Linked DNA regions of Homo sapiens. The protein of the gene in region 2 interacts with the protein of the main gene of each other region in a pairwise test. Each region holds a gene or a part of one and is shown on either strand. Other genes may lie near its edges. The genes, in order: PIBF1, CFAP53 and TBC1D21.

Evidence for each region.
Region 1: the proteins of CFAP53 (region 2) and PIBF1 interact in a two-hybrid assay, tested with the Homo sapiens proteins (one large-scale study listed by BioGRID).
Region 3: the proteins of CFAP53 (region 2) and TBC1D21 interact in binary tests that used the Homo sapiens proteins (3 or more experiments, as listed by UniProt).

Annotation. Positions count from the first base shown.
Region 1 is NC_000013.11:72,785,095-72,788,749, reverse strand, and holds part of PIBF1 (progesterone-induced-blocking factor 1), read right to left. Parts: intron 1-3,655.
Region 2 is NC_000018.10:50,245,892-50,249,546, forward strand, and holds part of CFAP53 (cilia- and flagella-associated protein 53), read right to left. Parts: intron 1-3,655. UniProt on the Homo sapiens protein: Microtubule inner protein (MIP) part of the dynein-decorated doublet microtubules (DMTs) in cilia axoneme, which is required for motile cilia beating.
Region 3 is NC_000015.10:73,886,500-73,889,730, reverse strand, and holds the end of TBC1D21 (TBC1 domain family member 21), read right to left. Parts: intron 3,220-3,231; coding exon 3,119-3,219; intron 2,112-3,118; coding exon 1,995-2,111; intron 1,302-1,994; coding exon 1,218-1,301; intron 948-1,217; coding exon of another isoform or gene 726-947; exon of another isoform or gene 663-725; coding exon 630-662; 3' UTR 517-629; downstream 1-516. UniProt on the Homo sapiens protein: Acts as a GTPase-activating protein for Rab family protein(s). Essential for the establishment of male fertility, and is required for both the production of normal sperm number and sperm function.

The DNA.
Region 1 (3,655 bases), on a different chromosome or scaffold from region 2:
ATTAGTAACAACATGTCCAGTTAGCTTCCCATCCCTTGTAGGTAGGGGTGGTCATGCTATACAATGTTAGTCAATTGAGGCCACTGGCTTGAACTTCTGGAAGAACTCTTTAAAGAGGACTGACTCATTTGGCACATGCCCCCTTTTCCACTATCCTTCTCCTTATTACCACCTTTTACATGTACACAATACTGGAGGCAGATAAGCTATCTTATGATTTCAGGTGAAAAGCATATGTTGAAAATAGCTAAGGTTAAAAGGAGCCTGGGTTCCTAATGCGATCAAGGAGTAATCACTTGAGGTCTACTAAAATACCTATTTTTGGATTTTTGTTATACCAAAGAAACAAAATCCTTCTCTTGCTTAAGCCATGGTTTCCAGGTCTCTGTTACCAGAAACCACCATTTTTCAAGTCTCTGGTATTAACTGCTGAACTTAATCCTTGAAACCCTGGGCAGTTGGTTCAATCTCTTTCCAAAATAGAAATACCTATAATATTTATTAACAGTTGACTATTCAGGACTACTTAAATGCTTCCAATGACAGGAAGCTCAGAAACTTAAGATCAGGCCATTTCAATGTTAATAGCAATAACAGGCTTACACTGAGCAGAAATCTACCTTTCCTGTGACTTCCAACCATTATCATGGAGCTATAGTCTAGTGAGGAAAATTTATTTTTCATAACGTTAGCATACGATGCTCAATAAGCTTTGGAGAATGAATGACCAATTAAAAATACCTTTCTTTCAAGACCTAGGCTTTAAGTTTCCTGCCCAGGCTAAAAAGTGTATGGCATGGCTGGGTGCAGTGGCTTCACACCTGCACTTTGGGAGGCTGAAATGGGTGGATTGCTTGAGGCCAGGAGTTCGAGACCAGCCTGGCCAACATAGTGAAACCCCCATCTCTACCAAAAATACAAAACTTAGCTGGGCGTTGTGGCACGGGCCTACAGTCCCAGCTACTCGGGAGGCTGAGGCACAAGAATCGCTTGAACACAGGAAGTGAAGGTTGTAGTGAGCTGAGATCATGCCACTGCACTCCAGCCTGGGCAACAGAGTGAGACTCTGTCTCAAAAAAATTAAAAGAAAAAAAAAGTATATGGCAGCACTACCAAATTGAGCCCCTTTCTTCTTCACTTAAAAATTCAGAGAGGATGCTACCAGATAGATTTGAATCAAATACCGCGTGGTGTTACCAGATCCATCAGGCTTTTGGGGACCCTGTTCATTTCAAAATACCCCATGAACCTTCTTTGCTTTCTTCTAGAGCTGGACCTCATTGAAACACCAAGAAAACAAACAGCTCTAACACCAGGAGTCCAATATACTTCTGAGTCCTCACAATCGACCAGAGGGACAAAATTCAGTGGGGTGTACTAGCTTTAGAATCACTGCTCACAAGAAACAGTGTAGCACTTTGTTCATCTGGAGTGCTTCACACATAAAGACAAAAATAAAGACATAACTAAACATATAATAACACATACAAATAAAGGTGTTATTTTAAAACATATAAAGAAATATGTCACATACCAATTTATACATAAACAAATAAGTGAAAAAATATATATCATGTGTGTAGTGCTGTTTGCCTGTCTAAGGTGTTATTCCCAGGGCATGTAAGAAGTAAACATATATATACACACATACACACATTAACATACATATACATATTCTTTAATAAAAATATTTTTTAAATATTCTTTCATCAACTCCAGACTCACACTTTCTCACATTTTAACATCTCTAAAATTGGAATGCATTTTACAATCTAAGGCACTTAACAATTCAACTGGAAGTGTTTAACCTTAGCAATGTATGTAATGATGCATCTTACAACAGAGGTGCTTTAGGTTCAATAAATTATGGAAGGCTAACTCTACAATAGGTATTTCTTCATATATTTGAGAGCAAACATCTTATTCCTAAAGAGTCTTCAAGCAGAGAATCCTGAGTGCTCGTATGATAGAGAAAAAAACTCTACTAATATACAGCAGGGCAGCTATTTTGGAGATAACCTGGCAGTACACTTAGTTAAATGAAGGAGACATTTATATATGTCAAAGACATGCTCACAGAGGTCCAGAAGAGAAATGTCTAATGCTGCATGTGTTGCAAGGAGCTGGAGGCAATCTGGATGCCTAGCAATGTAGGAGTAGAAAGACTGGTAGACGCACACAAAGAATTACATAAGAGTTGGAAGCAAAGGACTAGATGTATACAAAGTAATAGATAACTTCAAAAACAGTGCTGAGTAGGAAAAAAGAGATGAGAACTAAAACAAAGCATATAATTTACATTTCTGTAAAGTTAAAAGATACACATTCTCAAGAATACATGTAAACAAAACATTAAAATGTTTGCATTAAGAAATGGAATGAGCTATAGGAATGAAAAGAATAAATACATTAGAAAAACAGCAGCCTTTCAGGGATCAATGATGATTATGTGTCAAACTCAGGAACACGACTATTGCAATCTTCTACATTTTCAGTCAAACTAGAAAACCACAACAAAAACTACACTAAGCACCATGGAAGTAGAAAAATAATAATATTGTGCTGAGTAAGTATAGCTACAAATAAAATAATATGTAAATAATAAGTTTATTATTAGTATACACCAAGCATCTATGAGCTTACATACATTGATTAATCCTCCCGATAATTCCACGGAATAAATACTATTATCATTTTATAGGAAATCACGGAATAAAAACATTAAGGAATTTAGTAAGGCTGGAATTCAAAACCCAAACTGTGTGCATCTAGAACTGTAATTTGGATTTGTTACACTAGAGAGCCTGTCATGAATCAACCAACATTTCTATAATATAAAGCTTACACCTAAAAAGAAGCAAAGCCATTGACAACCAAGGACAATGCAAGTTGAAAACAAATAATACAAGAGGTGGCTGAACAAAATGTAAGTCTGGATATGGTATACAGGTGGCACTTAAAAAAATACTTGTTGACTGAGTGGGTGAATTAATGAATGGGAGATAACCTCAGGTTTCTTCAATGAGTTGCACTAAGGTCTGGAGAGGTGAAGGTAGATGGAGTTCATGTGAAATGCAAAAAGAGTAAGGGAATAGGGATGGGAAACCACTGGATGCATGGATAAACTACCAAGTGACCTAGACTAGGTAGGTGACTGTATAGGGTACCTAAAAGAAAGTGTTTGGAGCTTCACTTGTGTAGAGTATAGGCTTTAGACTTCCTAGGTTTGAATCCTATCTGGCTCTATCACTTTCATCTGAATGGCCTTGGGTATGCTATTAACCACCTAGTGGCTTTGTTTAATCAGAGCAAAATGGGGTTCAGTCATTCATTTAAGAAATAGCTGGGCACTTAATTTGTGTCAGGCACCGTTCTAAGTGCTGGAAATACAACCATGAATACAAAAACATCCCCGTCCTCATGGACCTCATAGTCTATTCACAGACAAATAACAAACAAATTCAGTCCGATGGCCATAAAAGGCACAGAAAATGAAAGGGATGAAACAGATAAGGATGCTATGTTAGTTGAAAACAACAACGGCTAATACGTCTTGTGTGCTTATTTTTTTTTCTCCCCTCAAAATTTGTATATTGAAACCTAATCACCAATGTGAGTAGCAGGAAGTTGGGGCCTTTGGGGTGATTAGGTTATA
Region 2 (3,655 bases):
TCCAGGTTGGAGTGCAATGGTGGAGTGTCACTCTTGTTGCTCGGGCTGGAGTGCAATGACACGATCTCAGCTCACTGCAACGTCCGCCTCCCGGATCAAGCGATTCTCCTGCCTCAGCCTCCCAAGTAGCTGGGATTACAGGCATGGGCCACCATGCCTGGCTAATTTTTGTATTTTTGGTAGAGACGGGGTTTCACCATGTTGGTCAGGCTGGTCTCAAACTCCTGACCTCAGGTGATCCTCCTGCCTCAGCCTCCCAAAGTGCTGGGATTACAGGCGTGAGCCACTGCACCAGGCCAGGATTTACATTTTCTGATTTCAAACTTACTACAAAGCTACGGTAATCAAGACATATAGATTTGTTATACTGGACTAAGGATAGAGATATAGATTGATGGAATAGAACTGAGTGTCCAGAAATAAACCTTCACTTTACTGTAATTGATTTTTGACAAGGGTGATAAGACAATTCAATAGGGGAACAATTAGAGAATTATTTCAACAAATGATGCTGGAATAACTGGATATCCACATGAGGAATAATGAATTAGGATCCTTATCTCATGCCATATACAAAACTTAAAATGGATCAAAAGCCTAAATGTAAAAGCTAAAATTATAACACTCTAACAAGAAAACAAAGAAGTACATCTTTGTGATCCTAGAGTAGGTAACCATTTTTTAGATAGGACCCCTAAAGCATAAGCAACAAAAGAAAATATAGCTAAATTGAACTTTGTCAAAATTTAAAACTTTTGTGATTCAAAGGACATCATCAAAAAAGTAAAAAGACAACCTATAGAATGAAAGAAAATAATTGCAAGTCATTTATCTGGTAAGAGACTTGAATCTAGAAAATATAAAGAACTCTTGGCCAGGCGTGGTGGCTCACGCCTGTAATCCCAGCACTTTGGGAGGCTGAGGTGGGTGGATCGCCTAAGGTCAGGAGTTCAAGACCAGCCTGGCCAACATGGTGAAACCCCGTCTCTACTAAAAATACAAAAAAATTAGCCAGGCGTGGTGGCAGGCACCTGTAATCCCAGCAACTCAGAAGGCTGAGGCAGGAGAATCGCTTGAACCTGGGAGGTGGAGGTTGCAGTGAGATGAGATTGCACCATTGCACTCCAGCCTGGGCGACAAGAGTGAGATTTAAAAAAAAAAAAAAGAACTCTTACAATTCAATAATAAAAGGACCAATAACCCAACTAAAATATGGGCAAAGGACTTGAATAGACTTCTCTAAGAATAGAGAATAGCCTTCAAATAGACTTCTCCAAGGAAGATCTACAAATGACCATAAGCACAGGAAAAGAGGCTCAATATCATTAGTCACTAGGGAAATACAAATAAAAACCATAATGAGATACCAATTCAGATGCATTAGGCTGGGTAAAATAAAAAAAACAGACAATAACAAGTGTTGGTGAGCATGTGGATAAATCAAAACCCTCATACACTGCTGGTGGGAATGTAAAATGGTTCAGCCACTTTGGAAAACAGTTTGGCAGTTCCTCAAAACTTCAACACAGAGTTACCGTATGGCCCAGTAGTACTACTTCTAGATACATGCCCCAAAGAAAAATAAAAACATATGTCCACACAAAAATGTGTACATGAATGTTCATAGTAGCATTATTCATGATAGCCAAAAAGTGGAAATAACCCAAATGTCCATCAACTGACATAATGCATAAACAAAATGTGGCATATCCATACAATGGAATATCATTCAGCCACATAAACAAATAAAATAGTGATTCATGCTACAATGTGGATAAATCTTGAAAACATTATGCTAAGTGAAAGAAGACAGTCAACAGGTCACATAACATGTGATTCCATTCATATCAAAGTCCAGAATGGGGAAATCTATAGAGACACAAAGTTGATAAGTGGCTGCTTAGGACTGGAGGCAGGAGGTGGGGAAGAAGGGATAGCAGGATAGTGAAAATGTTCTAAAATAAAATGTGATGACAGCTGCACATATCTGTGAAAACAGTAAAATCCACTGAATTGTATGGTTTAAACTGGGGAACTGGATGTTATGTGAATTCTCTCTTGAAGCTGTTAAAAAAATGATTTAAATGTGAACAAAAAACTCAACAGGAAAAAGAAATCAAATAAGCAAGTCAATTAGATAATGGACAAAAACCAGGAGTTGGAGGCTGCAGTGAGCTATGATCATGCCACTGTACTCCAGCCTAAGTGACAGAGTGAGATACTGGCTCAACAAAAATTAAAAAAAAAAAAAAAAACAGAAAATGGGCAAAAGACATGAAGAGACATTTCATTGAAGAAGACATACAGATAGAAAACAGGCTCATAAAAAGTTGTTCAAAATCATTAGCCATTAGGGAAATGTAAATTAAACCACAATGAGATGTTACTACACATCTATCAGAATGGTTAAAAGTGAACAATAGTGATAGCACCAAATGCTGGTGAGGATGTGGAGAAACTGGATTGCTCATGTATTGCTGGTGGGAATGTAACATGGTATGGCTACTCTGAAAAACAGTTTAGCAGTTTCTTTAAAAAACTAAACATGCAATTACTATATGACATAGCAATTGCTCTTCTAGGCATTTATCTCATAGAAATGATGATTTGTGCCAGGTGTGGTGGCTCATGCCTGTAATCCAAGCACTTTGGGAGGCTAAGGTGGGTGGGTCACTTGAGGTTGGGAGTTTGAGACCAGCCTGGCCAACATGGTGATATCCCATCTCTACTAAAAATAGAAAAAATTAGCCAGGCATGGTGGCACACACCTGTAATCCTAGCTACTCAGGGGGCTGTGGCAGGAGAATCACTTGAACCCGGGAGGTGGAGGTTACAGTGAGCCGAGACCATGCCACTGCACTCCAGCCTGGGTGACAGAGCAAGACTCCGCCTAAAAAAAAAAAAAAAAAAAAGTGAGAATGTGTTCACAGAAAAACCTGTACTCAAATGATTATAGCAGCTTTACTCATAATAGCCATAACCTGGAAACAACTCAAATGTCCTTCAACAGGTAAATGGCTAAACAAACTGTGGTAAATCTATACCATGAACACTACTCAAGAATAAATTGGGAGGCCGAGGCAGGTTGATTACCTGAGGTCAGGAGTTTGAGACCAGCCTGGCCAACGTGGCGAAACGCTGTCTCTACTAAAAACACAAAAATTAGCCAGACGCAGTGGCACCCGCCTGTAATCCCAGCTACTCGGGAGGCTGAGACAGGAAAAGCGCTTGAACCCATGAGGCGGAGGTTGCAGTGAGCCGAGATCACGCCACTGCACTCCAGCCTGGGCAACAAGAGCAAAATTCTATCTCAAAAAAAAAAAAAAAAAAAAGAATAAAAAGAAGGCTGGGTGCAGTGGCTCATGCCTGTAAACACAACACTTTGGGAGGCCAAGGCAGGAGGATTACTTGAGCCCAGGAGTTCAAGACCAGCCTGGGCAGCATAGTGAGACCCCATCTCTACAAAAAATAAGAAAACTAGCTGAGCATGGTGGCTTGTGCCTGTAATCCCAACTACTCAGGAGGTTGAGGCTGAAGTATCAGTTGAGCCTGGGAAGTTGAGGCTGCAGGGAGCTGAGACCACACCACTGCACTCCAGCCTGAGTGACAGGGCAAGACTGTCTCAAAAAAAAAAATTAAAAAAAAAGAAAAAGAA
Region 3 (3,231 bases), on a different chromosome or scaffold from region 2:
TTGCAGGCTGATAAATGAAGGCACAATTATGAGGGAGGCTTTGAAACCAGGAAGGGAATTGCCTGCTCATCAGATAGTTCTTCCAGGCCAGCCCCTTCCACAGACTAGCAGGAAATCTCTGGAAAAAATGACTTAATTGTGTGATTGATGTGACAGGACTCAGGGGAGCAGTGGGGGTGGGGGCAGAGCCCCAGGACCAGCCTTCCTCTCAGGACCTAAGTCCAGATGAACTAATCCTTATTAAATGTGCTCAGTTTTGTCCTCCACAGGGGTCTGGAAGCCTTTCAGAGCTGGTTCTACTCTAACCATTTGTATCCAGATATGGATCCACCGCAGCCTTGGAAAACCCTCCATCAAGGAGGAGCCACTGACCCAGTCTCTTCCAGCAAGCACCCTCCCTAGTCTCAGAATGTGTCTCTCAGCCAGCCAGCCTCTCTTCCTATCGTACGACCCTGTCTCAGCCCTCATGTGCGTCCCAGCCCCTAAGGTCAAAGACATAGCATCCACCACAAACCATTATTCCAGAGGACTGTTTATATTGCAGCTGTTTTATCTACTCCCTCACTCCAGTGCCCCTGGCCTTCATCCTGCCCATCGAAGGCATCAGTCCACTGCGGGCTTTGGTGTCCTCAGAGGAAGAAATCCTTTAATGTCTGAGGAACCTAGGGAGGAGGCAGGTGGGAGGTGCACAGACATTGGTCTGTCCCTTTCATTCTTCGGTTCTTCTAAGCAGCGACATTCTCCTGAGCCTCTGGGTGCCCAGACCCACTGGGATGGACACAGGGAATGGGGGATGAGGGCCCTGCTCTCAAGTAGTACAGCCTGCTCAGGGAGGAAGGAGCTACATGTGCAAACAACGAGAAGACCATGAGGAGCAACATGCATGGGTCAGTGGTAGAGAACGTGGCACAGTCTGTGTCTCTGAAGTTGAATGCACCTGCCATGGGCTGCGTTTGGGAGATCAGGATAGGCTCTGATGAGGAGGAGGAGGAGGAGGAAGAAGAGGAGGAGGAGAAGGAAGAAGAGGAGGAGTACGAGGAGGAAGAGGAGGAGGAGGAAGAGGAGGAGGAAGAAGAGGAGGAGGAAGAAGAAGAGGAGGAGGAAGAAGAGGAGGAGGAGGAAGAAGAGGAGGAGGAGGAGGAGGAGGAAGAGGAGGAGGAGGAGGAAGAGGAGGAGGAGGAAGAGGAGGAGGAGGACACATCATTGGGGCAACTTACATCCTTCTGGATGAGCTCAGCATAAACCACGCAGGCGGCAGAGATCAGCTCATCAGCATCAAGGTCGATGAGGTTGTTGCAGGCCTGCATGGGAGTGTGGGAGCAGTTGTGGGTGGGGCTGGGGCAAACATCTCCCAGCACTCTTGGGCACATGCAGCTGCCTGCAGCACCCAGGGAAGAAGGATGCTGCTCACAGCAGTCGCTGGGGACCACCTGACCTCTCCCCAGCCTGCTTGGCTCAATGCCTAAAATTTGATATTTTGGGGCAATGGTAAATGTTAGCTTTCATGTTAGGCTCTAGGAGTCCTGGGGCTCCACCAAGTGTCTTAGGGGCTTTGAAGGAGGACTTGGTTTATAATTAGGGTGTCACCTAAGATTTGTTTCTTCCAACAAAGACTTCAGTAGCTTTTTTAAAATGGTGGAAAACTCTAGGTCCTTCTGTTTCAGCAATATCCTAGGGCCACAGGGTTAACTGCGAGATGGTAGAGCTTAATAGTTAGGGAGTGTTCAAGGCCTCCATTTCCTCATGTGTTAACTAGGGGTGATGATGATGGTTATAGCCTCCCTGTGTCAAGCTTGTGGTGAGGCTTAAACAAGCTCTATTAAAAGCCCTTGGCACGGTAATCCGTACCTTAGATCTCATTGCCCTTTCTGTCTGGGGGGAAAAGGTGGCACTGGTGCCCAGCACCCCATGAACCCCGGTCTTTCAGCTGGGGTGGGGTGGGGTGTCAGGGCCTCCAGGAGCAGGGGTGGTAGCTTGCCCGAGGGTGCTCTCACCAGGAGGATGTCATCCCCGCCCATGCTTTCCTGCAGCACCTGCTCCCGCACCATCTGCAGCATGCTGTAGGCCACCAGCACCTGGAAGTTCCTGCAGGGCTTCCCCGTCAGCAGAACCTGTGGGTCAGGACGTCTCAGTCTGGGCCCTGTGGTCTGAGACTGCAGATGCCCTGAGGATGGTGAGGTACCCACCAACCACGTGCCTGGAGTCAGCCATTCCTGGGCCTTGCTGCTGACTTGCTCATTCAATCATTCCTTCATTCACTCACTCACTCATCCACTCACTCAGGCATGTGCTCACAGGTACTCCTGGTTCTAGGCATTGTGCTGTCTCCTGGGGGTTTCAGAGATAGAGGCTTCAGGGAATTCATTAGATAGAGGAAGGGGAGGGAGGCAATGAGGGGTGGGAAGACACTAGGAAACTGTCGAATTTGAGTGGGGTTTTGGCAAGCAAGGGTTGATGGGAATTAAATGACCCAAGGATGTCACCAAAGGCCTGGGTGTGGTCATGGACTTGGGCATGGAGACCAGCCAGCCAAGAGGCAGGTGGGAATAGATCTGTGGGGCCCTACATGCCAGGTGGATGGTTGGGCTGGACACTGCAGGCAGCGGTGGCCATGGGCAGGGCATTGATGGGTGGGGGTGGCATTCCTCAGAGGGTTCATCTGCTGATGGCCCTGAGGATTGTGGTCACAGGACTACAGGTGTCCTTAGGGACCCACCTTCTGTGAGAGAGTTCCACAGGAGCAGCACTCTGGGGAAGGGGAAGGCCAGGGTTGGGGGGACAGCTGGGGAAGTGAAAGCGTGGGGAGGCCACCTGGGCAGGGCAGCGGGGAAGTGGAGCTGCAGGCCCAGGCTCCCACTGCACAGGCCATAGGGCCCTCCTGTGTCAACTGCTAGCAGAAGGCACAGTCAGTGGGGCCTTTGTGTTAAATGAACATATGGACAAAGTGATGCTCCAGCTTCCTCCAGCAAGGTGGGAGCAGGGTTGCTGACCTAACAAAACCCCGAGATACTGAACTCCATCCAAGCCAGGAAGAAAGGGGGAGGCAAGGAAGACTTGCAGCTTCCACTCTGCCTGATGGGTGGAGCCCAGCCTGATGATCCCTAGCTGGACACCTCACCTCCCAGAGCCTCCAGACATCATCGAAGGACTTGAAGGCACGCTGGAAGCAGAAGCAGAACCAGGGGAAGAGGGACTGCACAGCCCCTGCACCCTTCCCTTCTGTGGGGAGAG